Linked DNA regions of Homo sapiens: region 2 is linked to region 1. The links come from fine-mapping of genetic effects on gene expression. Tissue or cell type: whole blood. Region 1 holds a variant in brackets; the other region holds the start of a gene. All regions are shown on one strand. Distances are between the middles of the regions.

The links. PIP is the estimated chance that this variant, and not a neighbour inherited with it, causes the effect.
Region 2: STK24 starts here. The variant in region 1 is fine-mapped to the expression of STK24 in whole blood (TOPMed, PIP above 0.99).

The regions. Positions count from the first base shown.
Region 1 is chr13:98,684,989-98,693,250 of GRCh38, reverse strand. SLC15A1 (solute carrier family 15 member 1) reads left to right here. Exons shown (of 23, transcript NM_005073.4): 19 at 4,674-4,781; 20 at 4,895-5,003; 21 at 5,527-5,670; 22 at 6,954-7,061. Among named protein-coding and RNA genes, the nearest start is that of SLC15A1, 64 kb to the left of the region's middle. The variant G/A (reference allele first, on the strand shown) is at 4,000.
Region 2 is chr13:98,573,199-98,581,198 of GRCh38, reverse strand. STK24 (serine/threonine kinase 24) reads left to right here and starts at 4,092. Exons shown (of 11, transcript NM_001032296.4): 1 at 4,092-4,454. The coding sequence starts at 4,413. It overlaps STK24-AS1 (STK24 antisense RNA 1), which reads right to left and starts at 3,944. Exons shown (of 1, transcript NR_046542.1): 1 at 2,358-3,944. RefSeq lists an enhancer at 3,379-3,568 and silencers at 3,659-3,808, 3,829-4,138, 4,189-5,058, 6,523-6,582.

The sequences.
Region 1 (8,262 bases):
TGGCAGGTGCCTGTAATCCCAGCTACTTGGGAGGCTGAGGCAGGAGAATCGCTTGAACCCGGGAGGCGGAGGTTGCAGTGAGCTGAGACTGTGCCATGGCTCTCCAGCCTGGGCAACAAGATTGAAACTCCGTCTCAAAAAAAAAAAAAAAAAAAAAAAAAAACGTAGACAATAACAAGTGTTGTTAAGGATGCGGGTAAACTGGACCCCTTGGCTGGGCATGGTGGCTCATGCCTATAATCCCAGCACTTTGAGAGGTCAAGGTGGGCTGAGTGCTTGAACCCAGGATTTCAAGACCAGCCTGAGCAATATGGCAAAACCCTGTCCCTACAAAAAAAGACAAAAATTAGCCAGGCATGGTGGTGTGTCCCAGCTACTCGGGAAGCTGAGGTGGGAGGATCACCTGAGCCCCGGGAGGTCGAGGCTGCAATAAGCCATGTTGGTGCCACTGCACTGCAGCCTGGGTGACAAAGTGAGACTCCGTCTTCAAACAAACAAACAAATAAATAAAAATTAGTACCCTTATTCATTGCTGGTGGTAAATCTAAAATGGTACAGCCACTTTGAAAAACAGTTCTTTGAAATGTTAAACATAGAGTTTTACTACAAAACTCAGCAGTTTCACTCCTGGGTATATAACCATGTTGACCAAAATTACGGGTGTTGAGGCAGAAATAATTTGATTTATTGGAAGCCAAATGTGAGGATCAACCTGGAAAGAGACATCAGCAAAGTAGGGCATGTCCCAGAGTCTACTGCAAGTTGGAAGACTCTTATAAGAAAGTTTAGGAAGACCGGGTTTAGTGGCTCATGGCTGTAATCCCAGCACTTTGGGAGGTGGAGGCAGGAGAATTACTTGAGGCCAGGAGTTCAAGACCAACCTGGGCAATAAAGCAAAACTCCCTCTCTGCAAATATAAGAATTTAAAAATTAGCCAGGCATGGTGATGCACTCCTGCAGTCCTAGCTACTTAGGAGGCTGAGGTGAGAGGATTGTTTGAGCCCAGGAGTTCAAGGCTGCAGTGAGCCATGATTGCACCACTGCACTCCAGCCTGGGTGACAGAGTGAGGCCTTGTCTTAAAAAAAAAAAAAAAAAAAAAAAAAAAAAAAAAAAGTTTAGGAGAAGAGAGGGGGACTCCTCATATTAGAGCTTTCCATTTTCTTTTTTTTTCTTTTTGAGATGGAGTTTCGCTCTTGTTGCCTAGGCTGGAGTACAATGGTGCGATCTCGGCTCACCGCAACCTCCACCTCCTGGGTTCAAGCGATTCTCCTGCCTCAGCCTCCCGAGTAGCTGAGATTATAGGCATGCACCACCATGTCCAGCTAATTTTGTATTTTTAGTAGAGACGGGATTTCTCCATGTTGGTCAGGCTGGTCTCAAACTTCCGACCTCAGATGATCTGCCCACCTCGGCCTCCCAAAGTGCTGGGATTACAAGCGTGAGCCACCGTGCCCCGCTCAAGCTTTCCATTTTCATTGGAGGTTATAATACAGAGGTTATGATCACTGGCTACAGATGACAACATATGGGCTAAAATGTTTTACCACAAGAAAGTCAGTAAAACGTCATGATTCAGAAGCAAATCTGCATCCTTTTCAGTGTTAGTGGGCTACGTATTAATCAGATATCAACACAATAAGATTGGAGGGAGTCACTCTTTACTCACAGACAGGCTATACGCCATGTATTGTGAGACCTTCCTCAGGTGGTTGATTTGGAAGCCTGCCAAATGTGACATGTGAGGTGTCACCCAGAAGAGATGAAAACATGTCCACACAAAAACTTGTGCATGCATGTTCATTGCAGCATTATTCACAATAGAGAAAGCGTACAAATAAATCCAATGTCCATCAGCTGATAAAAGGTGGTATATCCATATGATGGAATGTTAGTCATAAAAAAGAATGAAGTGGCCGGGTGTGATGGCTCACGCCTGTAATCCCAACACTTTTTGGGAGGCCGAGGTGGGCAGGTCATGAGGTCAGGAGATTGAGACCATGCTGGCTAACACATCCCCTCTCTACTAAAAATACAAAAAATTAGCCAGGTGCGGTGGCGGGGGCCTGTAGTCCCAGCTATTTGGGAGTCTGAGGCAGGAGAATCACTTGAACCTGGGAGGCGGAGGTTGCAGTGAGCCGAGATCGCACCACTGCACTCCAGCCTGGGCAACAGGGTGAGAATCCATCTCAAAAAAAAACAAAAAAGGAATGGAGTACGGATACATGCCACGATATGAACGAATGTGAAAGACAATATGCTAAGAGGGATGAAGCTGGTCACAGAGACCTGCATAGAATGATTCCATTGACATCAAGTGGCAGGCAGAGCCATGGAGACAGAAAGCAGATGAATGGCTGCCAGGGGGCCAGGGAGGAACGAATGGGAGTATTTAGACATGTTTAGATGTGCAAATCCTTACCATTGTGTCACAGTTGCCTCCAGTATTCAGTGCAGCCAACGTTGCACAGGTTTGTAGCCTCGGAGCCAAAGGCCACACCCATGCAGCCTGGGTGTGTGGTGGGTGGCACCGTCTAGGTGTGGGTAAGTGCCCGCTGTGAGGTTCCCATCACCACTGAATCGCCTCCGGACGCATTTCCCAGACCCCATCCCCATCATTAAGTTACTCGGACTGTGTTTTCATTTCTTGTCGCACCAGCCCTAAGACATAGGCCAGGCAGCTCAGAATCCTCTAGCCTTAGGGATGGTTTCATTCAGAGTCTGATGGCTGATAAGTTATAAAGCCAGGCCTCAGGCCCAACGTTCTGCTTCCTCGGCTTCACTCTGCCCACATGCTCTCTTTTGTGTGGGTGATCTTCATCTTTGATAAAAGCAGCTCTTACAGTCTAGAGCAGTGGGAATTCTAGCTAAGGCCCGTGTGGATCTGTCTCAGGTTCCATTTTCCATATTAATCAGCTATCAAATGACACCAAGTAGAAGGCCTCGGGACTTCAGGACCTGAGTTTAATTCATAGCCATTTTCTCCCAGCACCTAAAATTTGATCAGTATTATTTGTTGCCACAAAACTGATGAAACTTGGCCCCACATTTTAGCCATGGAAAGGTTAAATTATTCTTTACACTGCTGAGGTGTACACTAGTAAGACTTATTGTTCTCTACCCTGGATAATCTGCTCTAGGCCTTCACTCATGTGTTTGGTAGGAAAAGTCAACTGGTCTTATTTTGAGCAACACCGTCCTGGTCACTAGGGTTGTATGAGAGTTTCAGGGTCGTCTATAGCCTGGAACAGCTATGAAAGGGGTCTGTAATCAGCCATCCGTGCTGTTCACCATCTGTATGGTCCTATGAAGGCAAACAATTCACCTGCTTCCATATGAAGCGTAGCCTCACGGGACTTTGTAGAGATAGGAAGCCTTGGACCTGGAAGTCGGTCTTATTGGGTATCCATTCAAAGCTGTATTCCAGCAGGATGCTGACCACTGTCACTCCAGGACCACACAGGCCTCCACCCTCTGAAGGGGATTCCTTAAAGCTGTCTCTCAGCCTGGTATAATGACTCATACCCATAATCCCAGTGCTTTGGGAGGCTGTGGAGGGAGGATCTCTTGAGGCCAGGAGTTTGAGACCAGCCTGGGCAACACAGCCAGACCCTTGTCTCTACAAAAATAAAAATAAAAATTAGCCAGGCATTGTGGCACACACCTGTAGTCCCAGCTACTCAGGAAGCTAAGGTGGGAGGATCACTTGAGGCCCACAGTTCGAGGCTGCATTGAACTGTGATTGTATCACTGCACTCTAGCCTGGGCAACAGAGCAAGACCTCATCTCTAAAAAAGACTGAAAAAACCGTCTCTTGTTACTGGGCTGGCCCACTTCTTCCTCTCCAGTCCCGGGTGCCCTTCCCCACCTGAGGCTCCTAGAGGTAGGAAGTAGGTGGGCTTTCCTCCTCAACCCCCTAAAGAAGGGGGTGTCGTTTAGGAACTGGGGTCTATCTTTTAGGAACTGGGCAGCATCTGGTTTTGGTCTTTCACTACTTGAGC[G/A]CTAAAGTTTCTGGCCAGGCGCAGTGGCTCCCACCTGCAATCCCAGCACTTTGGGAGGCCGAGGTGGGCAGATCGTCTGAGGTCATGAGTTCAAGACCAGCCTGGCCAACATGGCGAAACCCCACCTCTACTAAAAATACAAAAATGAGCCGGGTGTGGTGGTGCATGCCTGTAGTCCCAACTACGCGGGAGGCTGAGGCAGGAAAATCGCTTGAACCTGGGAGGCAGAGGTTGCAGTGAGCCGAGATTGCACCACTGCACTCCAGCCTGGGTGACAGAGCGAGACTCCATCTCTAAATAAATAAATAAAGTTTCTGAAACAAGGAACACAAAGGCACGGCTACCTTCTTGAAGGGAAGAGGCTCAGTATCTACTTCAGTCCCTGCTTAATATTCCTAATGTATTGAACTAGGTTAGATTTACAAAGTACTTAGAGCAGTAACCAGCACATATAAACACTGTTAAATACATTCTTTTAGGTGTGTTCTCATGAGTGGGTGAGCAGGGATAAACCCAGAGTTTTTCACTTTTTGTCTTTATTCTCTAGAAATATTCTGAAAACATCTTAAACTCCTTCAAAATAGGGAGTATTGCCCAACTTCAGGTGCATGTACTGTGACCTAGAATATATTATTCTCTAGTTCAGTTACAAGACAGATGGTTTTCTGTTTCAGATTTGTAAATACTTTTAACGAGCTCATCACCATCACAATGAGTGGGAAAGTTTATGCAAACATCAGCAGCTACAATGCCAGCACATACCAGTTTTTTCCTTCTGGCATGTAAGTACCGAGACTGAATGCTTCACTCAAAGGTTCAAGAATTTTTCTTTAAAAAATGCATTGAAATTTTTAATGCCAAGAATGTTAACCAATATTATTCTTTATTTTGATAGAAAAGGCTTCACAATAAGCTCAACAGAGATTCCGCCACAATGTCAACCTAATTTCAATACTTTCTACCTTGAATTTGGTAGTGCTTATACCTATATAGTCCAAAGGAAGGTTAGTAACTCGTTTCATTGTATCAGAAGATCTGCTCATACTCGATTGATATGAAGACTCACAAACACTTAGGACATAATATGATTTAACTAGAGTGATATTAGGATCTGTATTTTAAATGGGCTTAGAATTAATTTGCTTGGCTAATTCTTTAACTTATTGATGACTTAATCATTAGAATCTAAACAGACTGACTTCCCCTGGATAATAATTTATGTTAACCAATATCTGATGCCTCCTTCTAGACTATTAACATGGACTTAAAGAACTCATAGTTCAAAGAGAGGGCAGTGTTTTAAAATGACTTCCAACCTACTCTCTTATCTAAAAGAAAAATCCTCCTGAACGTGTCTTCAAATCCCATTGCAAGTGTAAAATGCAGTGTTGCCTTATGTTTAAAATGTGTACGTACTTGACAAATCATATGATGTAATCCTAGAAGGTCAAACTCAATTTACCTGTTCGAACAGTTTTTATTTTAGAAGCTATCTCAACTTCTTCTGCTTTTGCCTTACTGCTGCAGAATGACAGCTGCCCTGAAGTGAAGGTGTTTGAAGATATTTCAGCCAACACAGTTAACATGGCTCTGCAAATCCCGCAGTATTTTCTTCTCACCTGTGGCGAAGTGGTCTTCTCTGTCACGGGATTGGAATTCTCATATTCTCAGGTTTCTTGTTTGTTGTATTTACCACCCATCTGCAATACCCCTGCCTGCAGAAAATGCTGATGGGACTTAATTTAAATCTGGGATAACTATATTTTTTAAAAAGTCTAGAAAGCATTATGGTATCTTCCCTACAGCAAGGTCTCTGAGGTCACCAAGTGTTGTCCTTAGTGAATAAGAATTATTACTGTCTTGAACTTTGCAAGAGCACGTGTTCACATGTGTCCATAGCCCCACAGTCATACCCTAGACATTTAGCGCCCAGTATTTATTACTGACTGCTACCAGAGTGATGAAGGTCAGCAGATTCTCCTTTCTGAAACAACCAAATGTAACCAACCATTCATAAAACAGCTCAATTACAGGTCTATGTCCTCATGATAGGTTTGGTTGAGGTCTCTTTATAGCTCCCAGTAAACATAACAAATAAGGTCTAGCTTTAAAAATTAAAAAAAATTAAAAAAACACATTAGCTGAGCATGGTAGAGCACGCTTGTGGTCCCAGCTACTTGGGAGGCTGAGGCAGGAGGATTGCTTAAACCCAGGAGTCCGAGGCAGCAGTGAGCTGTGATCACACCACTGCACTCCAGCATGCGCAACAGAGCAAGACACCATCTCAAAAAAAAAAAAAAAAGAAGAAAAAGAAAAAGTTTAAAAGAATTATTGCTTTTAAGTGTGTTAGACTAATGAGCTAGGTTTTATTGATACCCAAATTAGAGCTTAATTATTGAACTGTGTTGTCAGAGCTATAGTTATAGGCATTATAGCCCACAATGCCTAGTACCATCAATTTTTATAGTAAAGAGGCCAAGATGAGTCAGAAAATCACTTTCTGTGATAACCTCACAGTCTAATAAAGGAGATAACTGTAATACAGGTGACAGGTGTTTGAAGAGATTTTGGAGATGTGGCAGGAAAGCCACAGAAGGGCAAGCTTGCAGCCCAGGGCAGCCTGCATTTGAGGGGAAGACTATGCCAGGCTGGGTGGCTTTGCTTGGAAGCTCTCCTGTAGAAATAGGATCAGCTCCTCCGTAGATGTGTCCATTTAACTAAGGGGACAGCTTTGCAAGGATGTGGAGCGTGAAACACAGGAATTCTTGTCTACTCGTCTGTGCATGTTTGGGTGTCTTGTTACTTAAGTGATGATCCTTTTTACATTGAGGCCACCTGACTTTTCGTGTGCATTGTTAGGGTGATCTGCTTCACGAAACGCCCATCGGTGAGCTGTGTTCTCCTGCTCGGAGGGTGAGACCTGGAGCAGGACTCACTTTGCTTTGCTTCCTCAGGCTCCTTCCAACATGAAGTCGGTGCTTCAGGCAGGATGGCTGCTGACCGTGGCTGTTGGCAACATCATTGTGCTCATCGTGGCAGGGGCAGGCCAGTTCAGCAAACAGGTATGGCGTGGGAGAGGAGATTGCACATACCTCTGTCTTTCCTGTTCATGGTCATCATGGTGGCCTTCCCTAGCCATCTGTGTGCTCTGTGTGGTCATCTAGGCTAATAGCTGGATTAAACTGCCAGACCAGCCAGGGCTGTTCCCAAATAGCCTTATGGCAAAGTGTCTGCTGTTTCTTCTTCTTCTTCTTTTTTTTTTTTTTTGAGACGGAGTCTCACTCTATTGCCCAGCTGGAGTGCAGTGGCGCAATCTTGGCTCACTGCAACCTCCGCCTCTCGGGTTCAAGTGATTCTTCTGCCTCAGCCTCCAGAGTAGCTGAGCCTACAGGCACCCACCACCACACCCGGCTAATGTTTGTATTTTTAGTAGAGACAGTGTTTCACCATGTTGGCCAGGATGGTCTCGATCTCTTGACCTCGCTATCTGCCCACCTTGGCCCCCCAAAGTGCTGGGAGGTGTGAGCCACTGCACCTGGCCTGATGATTCTTCTTATTCCCACTTGTTGTTAACGCAGCTGGAAATTGACAACCAAAATAGCTGGAATGGGTTAACTTGAAGTTGCCCTTATGTGTTTTACTATCAAGGGAAACATCTCTCCTAGCTTCAGTGAATGCAGCTTAGCAGCTGCAAAGCAGACACATGTTATCCTGGAACTTTCATAACACCTGAAGTTAAAGCCATCCTAGAGTTGGTTATAAATTTTCCAGCTAAAATTAAATGAGGGCTCTACTGATACTTACACTCTTTCCTTCTGCACTGTAGCATGTCTGCCTCATAAGGGAGCTGTTATCCCATCCGTTTCATGACTTCCTGCACCAGGTCCCAGCAGCAGATGTGCTAATGCTGTGTGCTTATGAGCTCCAGGTGTTTCCAAGGAGGAACGTGGGGCTCTTAACTTGCTGGAGTTCAGCATATTCATTTTTCCCTTGTGGGGACTGCTTGCTGTTCTCTTGGTCCCCATCCTTCCAGGTCCAGCCACATGTCTTAAGGCTTCAGTATTTCAGAAATTTTCTCTCATCTTCCCAAAGTCTGTTGTTTCTGTACCTTAGTGCTGTTCAAAACATGTTGTCTATATTAGCATCTATCTATCTTGGGCATTCCAGAAAAGCTGGGCTTACTGTATCTGTATTGGTTGCTTACCAATTTTCCATAATTTAATTTCAAAGCACTCTCCATCTGCATGTAGCAAGAACATGTAC
Region 2 (8,000 bases), 110 kb after region 1:
TAAAAATACAAAAATTAGCCGGGTGTGGTGGCGCTCGCCTGTAGTCCCAGCTACCAGGGAGGCTGAGGCAAGAAAAATGCTTGAACCTGGGAGACAGCGGTTGCAGGGAGCCGAGATCTCACCACTGCACTCCAACCTGGGCAACAGAGCGAGACTCCATCTCAAAATAAATAAATAAATAAATAAATAAATAAATAAATAAATAATAAAAACAGGAAATTAGGACACAGGAACACACAGTGAAGACCACGAGAACACAGAGGGAGAAGCTGGCCGCTACAAGCCCGAGAGAGGCCTCGGAAGAAACCAATCTTGCTGACACCTTCATCTTGGACTTCCAGCCTCCAGAATGGTGAGGAAATAAATTTCTGTCGTTTTGGCCATCCAGTTGGTGGTTCTTTGTTACGGCAGCCCTAGCAAACTAAGGCAGGGTGCAACTGAAAACCTACTTAGGGTGATATCCCTGCAAGAGCCTGCCCTCTGAGCTCTCCACGCACAGAATGAAACCTTATTGGTACCATTCCTCAATGTAGCTGGGATATTTTTCTGGGGCTTTGGCATACCTTTTCTTGCTATTGTGTCATCCAACAATGACTAGACATTCTTCTTTAAACTGATCTTGATAATTTGTCTTCACCTACTGAACATGTGTAGAAATTTGTCTAAGCCTTCTGTTAGTTACTTATCCAAGCTACTCCTATTTCTCCCTTTAAAGTTCACCATGTAAGTCCCTTTCTTTAATCTCTGAATTTAAATTGCTAATGCTCTACTTGTCTAGCTGTTCTTTATAAAGCAGCATTTGGGGGTGTTTATCTTTTCAACTTAGAAAGAAAAGTGAAGGGATTGATTGTGGAATTCTTGTTTTCTGTTCCTCTCTGAGCTCTGCTGAGAGTGCGTACAAACTAGCTTAGGGGCAGCAAATACATAGGGGCTTTATATTTGGAGGGGCTCCATATAGGGGTATGGAAATATTCTTTGTGGTCCAGAATATATTTCAGATCATAATTCATTGCCAGACTGATGTCCTTAAGTGAACACAAAAGACAAAGAGGACCAGGGAAGAAAAATAATTCAATGGATAAAGTAAATAACTCAATGGGTTAGTATCTCCATGGAGACCATAAAATGCATCATCTCTATGGAGACTCTCATAATCTCCTTCTGGACTTACGGTAGTGTATAACCTGTTGTAATCATACATTGGGGGTGGAGGGAAAGTGACAAGAGGAAGAGGGTGAGAGGATGATCCTTTTCTTTCCTTGGTGGAAATGATAGCTATTGCCACTCTAAGTTTAATCAATTATGGTATTGTATTCATCCAAAGTTAGGATTCTGGGAGACCAGGTCCCTAGGATGGGTTAAGAGGCACCTGAGGATCTAATGTTTATATGCCCAGTACTGAACTGGGTATCTGACATGTATTAATAGTTGGTATTCAAAAAAGGTGTGAATGAATGAACATAATAGGCAATTGCACCGGATCTGATCCCGGGCTCAGGCCCTGTGCATCATCTCTGTTGTGCAAAAACAAATAAGGTGGAGACCTACTTCTGCCATGGGGAATACTCGGTACTACCTGCATAGGGCCAAGGAGAACCAGTAACTCCCATGTTGCTTCCTTCCCTTCTTTCGATAAGAATGGTGCTCAACAGTATGAACATTGTCAAAGGATGAAACAATGGTCAGTGTGGAGAGAAGATAAACAGGGTTCGGGGCAACAGACCAGCTAATGGATGCAAGTCACTGTGTCCAGAGAAGTTACATCCTGCCGGAATCTCCCTGTTTTGAGCCTCACTAGCCTCAGGACACAAACTAGGATTCCGGTTATTTTTTTATACCCAGGGTACTATGGGCCTTTGTCCCCCATCTGCTGTGACTTATTTGCTGGCAATTAGCCCACTGCAAAGTGATTTCTGAGCATTTACCATGGTAATGTCTCAGATCAGCATCCAGACATTTCCATCCATTCATCTAGTTTCTTGCTCTTTATCTTGGTGCCAGGTTATTGCCCTGGCTCTGCTGACCCTAGAAGAATATTTTTACTGTCCCTTTTCTATGCTTAGACATGTTTAGATCCACAAATATTTACCATTGTGTTATAGTTGCCTCCAGTATTGAGTTCAGTCACATGCTGTTCAGGTTTGTGGTCCAGGTGCAATACGTCATACCATATAGCCTAGGTGTGTAGTAGGCTATGCCATCTAGGTTTCTGGAAGTACACTCTATGATGCTCACGTGACAAAATCAACTAAGAACACATTTCTCAGAATGTATACCCATTGTTAAGCAATACATGACTGTGTGTCTGTAGGCCATATATATTAATATATATATAGTCATTTGAGATCAGTCTATATACAGTGTTTTGTACCCTGTATTTTCTTTAATAATATATAATGAATACATTTTCCCCATTACTAGGTACTGAAAGACATAATTTTAAATGACTACATAGTACTCGTATGAAAATGCTATTATTTACTTAACCTCTGTGAGACTTTTTGGCTGTTCCGTTTCCCCAGGATTCTAAACATCACTGTGTCTTCTTACATGCATTCTTCCACACTTCTTGGTTGTTGCCTTAGGATATGTTACTTTAGGTAGAATTCCTGGGCTGCGCTGAAGAATAGAAACATTTTAAAGATTCACATTCTTGCTTGTTTTGCTGTTCGCCTCTTTAGGTACCATATTTTTTAGGTGTACAAAATTTATACACCTGATTTTAAGTTCCTGGGTATCAGGGTTCATACTTCTCTTAATTTTGTATTTCCTTGCAGTCCTACTTACGGGTGGCAGGGCTCCTCAAGGGATGGGTGTACCAATGACAACCATGAAAGTATTCTAAGGTATTCCCTAGGACTCCGAGAAAAAACATGCATCTTTCCAAAGGGAAAGAAGGGATTAGATGTTAGCATCCTACTCCATGTCAGATCCAGAGCACCCGGGGGAACTGAAGTTCGTGGATGGAATACAATGACACCTCAGAAAAGAAATACTCCTTTGGTGGAGGCCTTTAAACTTTTGGGGGCTCATTTTGTCTGCCTAACTCGCCCAGCCAGGGCGCAAAATGGCCACTTAGGAGCATGAGTGAGGTGCCAGCGTCCCTACAATCTAAGGAGCAGGGAGTCATCACTGGGGTGGCTGCCGCTCTACCTGTTTGCGACTGTAATAAAACACCTTCTGGAGGCCGAGGGACCCGCTTCATCCTGACTTTTCCCCTCAGTAGCTAGAGAGAAGGCGGCTGAAAAGAGGAGACAGAACTGGTGCTGAGTGGGCCTGGAGCTTCCGAGGCAAGGGAAAGAGGGAGAGGGCTGCAGTTCAAAGTCCAGACGCGCTTTCCTTCCATTCTCTTCCCTTCCTCCCTGCCCTCTGCGCCCCATTTTCCCCTTATCGTGGGTGGGGGCTTCTGATTTGCTGCGGATCCCAGAGATGGTGGGGTTCAGCCTCCGCACTGCTTAGCTAAGTTCCCAGCCCAGCAGTCCCAGCCGGGCTGTTTTCGGTAACCAAAGCACTAGGAATTAACCTCTCTCTCGGCCTCTTCCCTTTCGGTTTCCTTCTTGGGTTGGCTGGAAACTTCACCCAGACACCGAAGCAGCTCTGCCCGGCCTTTTGGCACAGGCCACCGGCCGAGGCCCCACGGGGCGCTCTCCTTCCCCAGGTGCCCCCGACTCCGATCCTGCCCTCAGGGGCTCGCCCGGGACGCGTTTTCCCAGAGGCCGCCGGGGCGGGGTGGGCTGGCTGGCGGGAAGAGGGGGCCGCGGCCCAGGCTCGCCCCGGCGCCGGCCCGGTGGGCACGCGGCCAGCCTCCGGCCCCGACTCGGTCCCTCCCGGCGCCCGCCCCAGCCGAGGCCCCCTCCCGGCCCCGCCGCCCGCCCGCGGGGGCGTGGGAGCGCCGCAGGAGCAGCTGGGACCCGGGCCGGGCCGACAGGCGGCGGCTGCGGCCTAGGGCTCCCGCGCGGCCACCGGCCTCTCCCCTCCCCCTCCCGGAAGCGCGGGGCGGGGTCCCCGGCCGGGCCGTGGGGGCGGGCGCGGGGGCCGGGCCGGGGCGGGACGCGCTCGGCGCTCGCGGGCTCGGCGGGCTGTGCGCGCCCACTCCGGCTCCAGCGGCCAGCGCGCGCGGGCCCAGGCCGCCCGGCTCCAGCCCAGCAGTAGCGGCAGCAGCGGCGGCGGCGGCAGTGCGCGCGAGGCCCTGCGCCCCCAGCAGCTCCTCCCTGGCGCCGTGCATGGAGACGCGGCCCGCCACCCGCCGCTGAGCCCCCGCCGCCCGGCCGGGACCCGCCAGGGCTGGGGTGGCCTCGGGCTCCGGCCGGCCCCGCCGCCCGAGGGCTGCGCGCGGCCCGCGGGCCTCGCCGCCCCGCGCGGATCGTCGCGGCCCGGCCGTCCCGTCCCAGGAAGTGGCCGTCCTGAGCGCCATGGCTCACTCCCCGGTGCAGTCGGGCCTGCCCGGCATGCAGGTAGGCGGGCGCGGGCCGCGGGGCCGGGATGCGCGACCGGGGCGGAAGCAGCAACTTGGCGGTATCCACACGGCGTCCCCCTACGCTCAGCCGGCCGGGGTCGCGCCGGAGCCTGGCTCCCCGCGCGCCCGGCTCGGCCGGGGGTCCGAGTCCGAGTCCCTGGGCGTCCCTGCCGGCTCCGGCGGCCGAGGTCTCCGGCGTGTGCGTGCAGGAGCCGTAGGAACCGCGGCCTGGGTCCGGATGTGGGGGTGCGGGCGCCTAGTCCTCCGCGCTCCCCTCGCCCCAACACTCTTCCGGAGCTGCAGGCCCTGGGTGGCCCTGTCCCCGGGAGAAGTGAGGTGGAGTGATGCCCTTGGAGGCCCCCGCCGGGTCCCGGGGCCCTGCGTGGTGGCCGGGTTGGCGGAGGGCCCCAGGACGCGTCCCCCAGGCTCGTCCCCCACCCCCGGGCAGGCGGGCGGGAGACCTGGGCAGGGCGGGGACGGGGAGCGCGCCTGGACTCGTCCGGGCCCGAGCGGAGTAGGCAGGGTGGAGTGGAGGAAGGTAACCGCGAGTTCCACTTGCAGTGGCTTTGCCCGGAGCCCCCGTGCACCTGCGGACCGGGGGAAAGTGCGAGTTGCAAACCTTCTGGAAGGAGGAATCCCTCGGACAGCCGCGCACCAGGGTCCCGGGCCCGGCCCCGGGACCCTGGACTTTCACTTTGAGACTTGGTTGCATTTACAGGAATTCTTCGCCCAGTAAACCTCTCTTTCGGTACTTGGTGACACCTTGGCCTACCAGTGACTTTTTGGGGAGTGGGAGAGGAGTTGAATTTCAAATTTACATGTATAAGTTAAAGGTTTTTTGTTGTTGTTGTTTTCGTTGTCGTTGCTTTTAGCCCTTTGAAAAACAAAGCTACCGTCCTTGGCTAACTCTTGTAAACTTTGTAGGCGCAGAAATGGTGGCAAAATGCTTAGGATGGAAATCTTAGGATGCAGTTAGGATATGTCATGAAAGTTTGCTCTGCCAGTTTAGCTGAGTGAACGTTAAGTGTTTGAAGAAAACCAAAAGCATCCAAGTAGATTACTGGTTGATTTACAGGTACCAACAGGCTCCTTCCCTGTGTCTTGAGGGCTGAGAAGCACAGAGCCCAGACCTGGGACTGCCTCTGGGGTCTGCTCGCCTCTTCCAGTGAGATCATCCCTCTCCCTTCTTTTTTTGAAACCGTAAAAAGAAAACTGGATTTCACTGTTCAGGTTTGAATTCTGGAAAAATAGGAACTCAAAGTTACCACTTTAATGGCAGCTAGAATTTTAGTCCAAGTGTGTGTGTGTGTATATGTGTGTGTGTGTGTGTGTGTGTATATATAAGCAGTATATATATGTGTGTATATATGTTTAAGCAGTAAATAAATATACATTTAAGCAGCAACAGTTAAGTTATTATCTTAAGAGTGACTGGGAAGATGCTTGAAGAATATTCTTTTGTCGACTCTCATTTAAGGAGCGTTGAATTTAGCATGCATTCAAAACCTAAACTTCTGCTGACTGCTGGGTAACAATCAGATGTGGTTTCTTGGTATTTTCTAAAGCCGCTTTGGTATGAATTTAGAGGTGTGTAGGTCAGAGTGAACTGGGTGAAAAAAGTAATTTCTTACTAGTCGAGCAAGAAAGGACTCTTGTAATGATTTAAAAAAAAAGTTTTATCAATATTTCCTTTAGGTTGATATTTATACCGTGTTCATCAGGTTGGAATCTAGCACAAATGCCTCACTTACTAGGTTAATTGGCCTTTGTGGATAGCGAATCAGTTTGAAAAGGTACTAAAGCCCCTTTGGCTGGTGCCGTGAAGTCAGTATCAGATGGTTACCAGGTGATATCTAGTATCTCACCTTTTCATTTTTATCCTCACTTTTTTTTTTGAGTGGGTCAGAATTCTTAAACCTTGGGAAAAGAAGATACATTTCCTTAATAACTTTGCCTCTCAACTATTATGTATCTGTTAGGTTGTGTTACATGGGAACTGTTTTTATTTTGTTTTCTCAGTATGAAAGATCTTAAGTGTTTCTCAGTGGAAAAGATGATCAGATTTTCAGCTGTTACAGTTTTACAGTTTTAGAGGTAGGTAAGTTGGCTTCTGCCAGTCATTCCTGTACCTAAGTACATCTACAGACTGTATGGTAACAGTGTATCATTTGGGGAAGAACATTCTTTTCTCCTCCCCCACCCCACAAAAGAAAAACAACAGCACATTTATTTTCTACTTCAAATTAGCAGTTGCTACTGCCCTGGGAGGCTTCCCTAAGAGTTGTTGCTGAAGATTCAATTAAAAACACACCTGCTTTCGACTGTTGTCTGCTAAATGGGAGGAGAGAAGTCCGTATCTCTTCTATGGCTTGCTCTGATAGGCCTCATAGCCCTCCCTTTTTCTTGTCTCCTGACCAGGGCTTATAAGGAGTTGGCTTAGAAAGACAGCAGAGTCTGTAATCTCAGCAGTTTGAGAGGCCGAAGTGGGCGGATCATGAGGTCAGGAGATCGAGACCATCCTGGCTAACATGGTGAAACCCTGTTTCTACTAAAAATCCAAAAAATTAGCTGGGCGTGGTGGCACACGCCTGTAATCCCAGCTACTCGGGAGGCTGAGGCAGGAGAATCACTTGAACCCGGGAGGCGGAGGTTGCGTTGAGCTGAGATTGTGCCGTTGCACCCCAGCCTGGGCGACAGAGGCAGACTCCGTCTCAAAAAAAAAAATAAAATAAAAAAATAAAGCAGAGTGAATTCAGGTGGCCTAGGCAAGGATGCTTGAAAAATAACAACCATGTTAGTATAAACACCATTTTTCAATGTTTTGCAAATCATTTTTATGCCTCTTGATTCTTACCGGTACCGTTTGAGATGTAGATGATATTATACCATTTTGTAGATGTGGAGACCAAGGAAGACTTAACTGACCAAGGTGAGATCATATATTATGTGGCAAATTTGTGATTGGAAACTACTACTCCTCCTACTCCCACTCATCATGCAGTGTTACTGTTTTATGGTTACTTTTGCAAACATTAAAGTTTATCTCATTGCTAGTTAGATTGGCTAAAGAAATTAGAAATAGGAGGCTGATTTTTTAATTTATTCAATCAGCAACCCTTATTGAACTTTCATGTGCCAGGTCCTAGGGGAGGGGTTGAAAGTGGTAGATCTGAATGAGGTTACCATTTAAAGTAAATGTTTAATGAAAGTTGCTGAAGCCTTTGCTTTTTTTCTCTTAAACCCCAGTTTTATATTTCAGTAGGGGAAAAAAATAGACATCAGAAACTGAATGAATATAGTGACGAATAAACATAAAGAAATCAGGCTGATCTGTGGCTATAAGTACTCCGTCTTTCATTGAGCATTTGTTGTTTCACTCAATTGAGATTAAAAGAAAAGCTTCAGATGGAGGCAGGAACACCAATCGGCTTTGAGTTTGCAGAAATGTGATTTAAAAATGAGATTTTGGTTTGCACATTTCTGTTACAAAATTTTATCAGTCACTTTTCAACTTTTCTGAACCGTGACCCATGTAAGAAATATA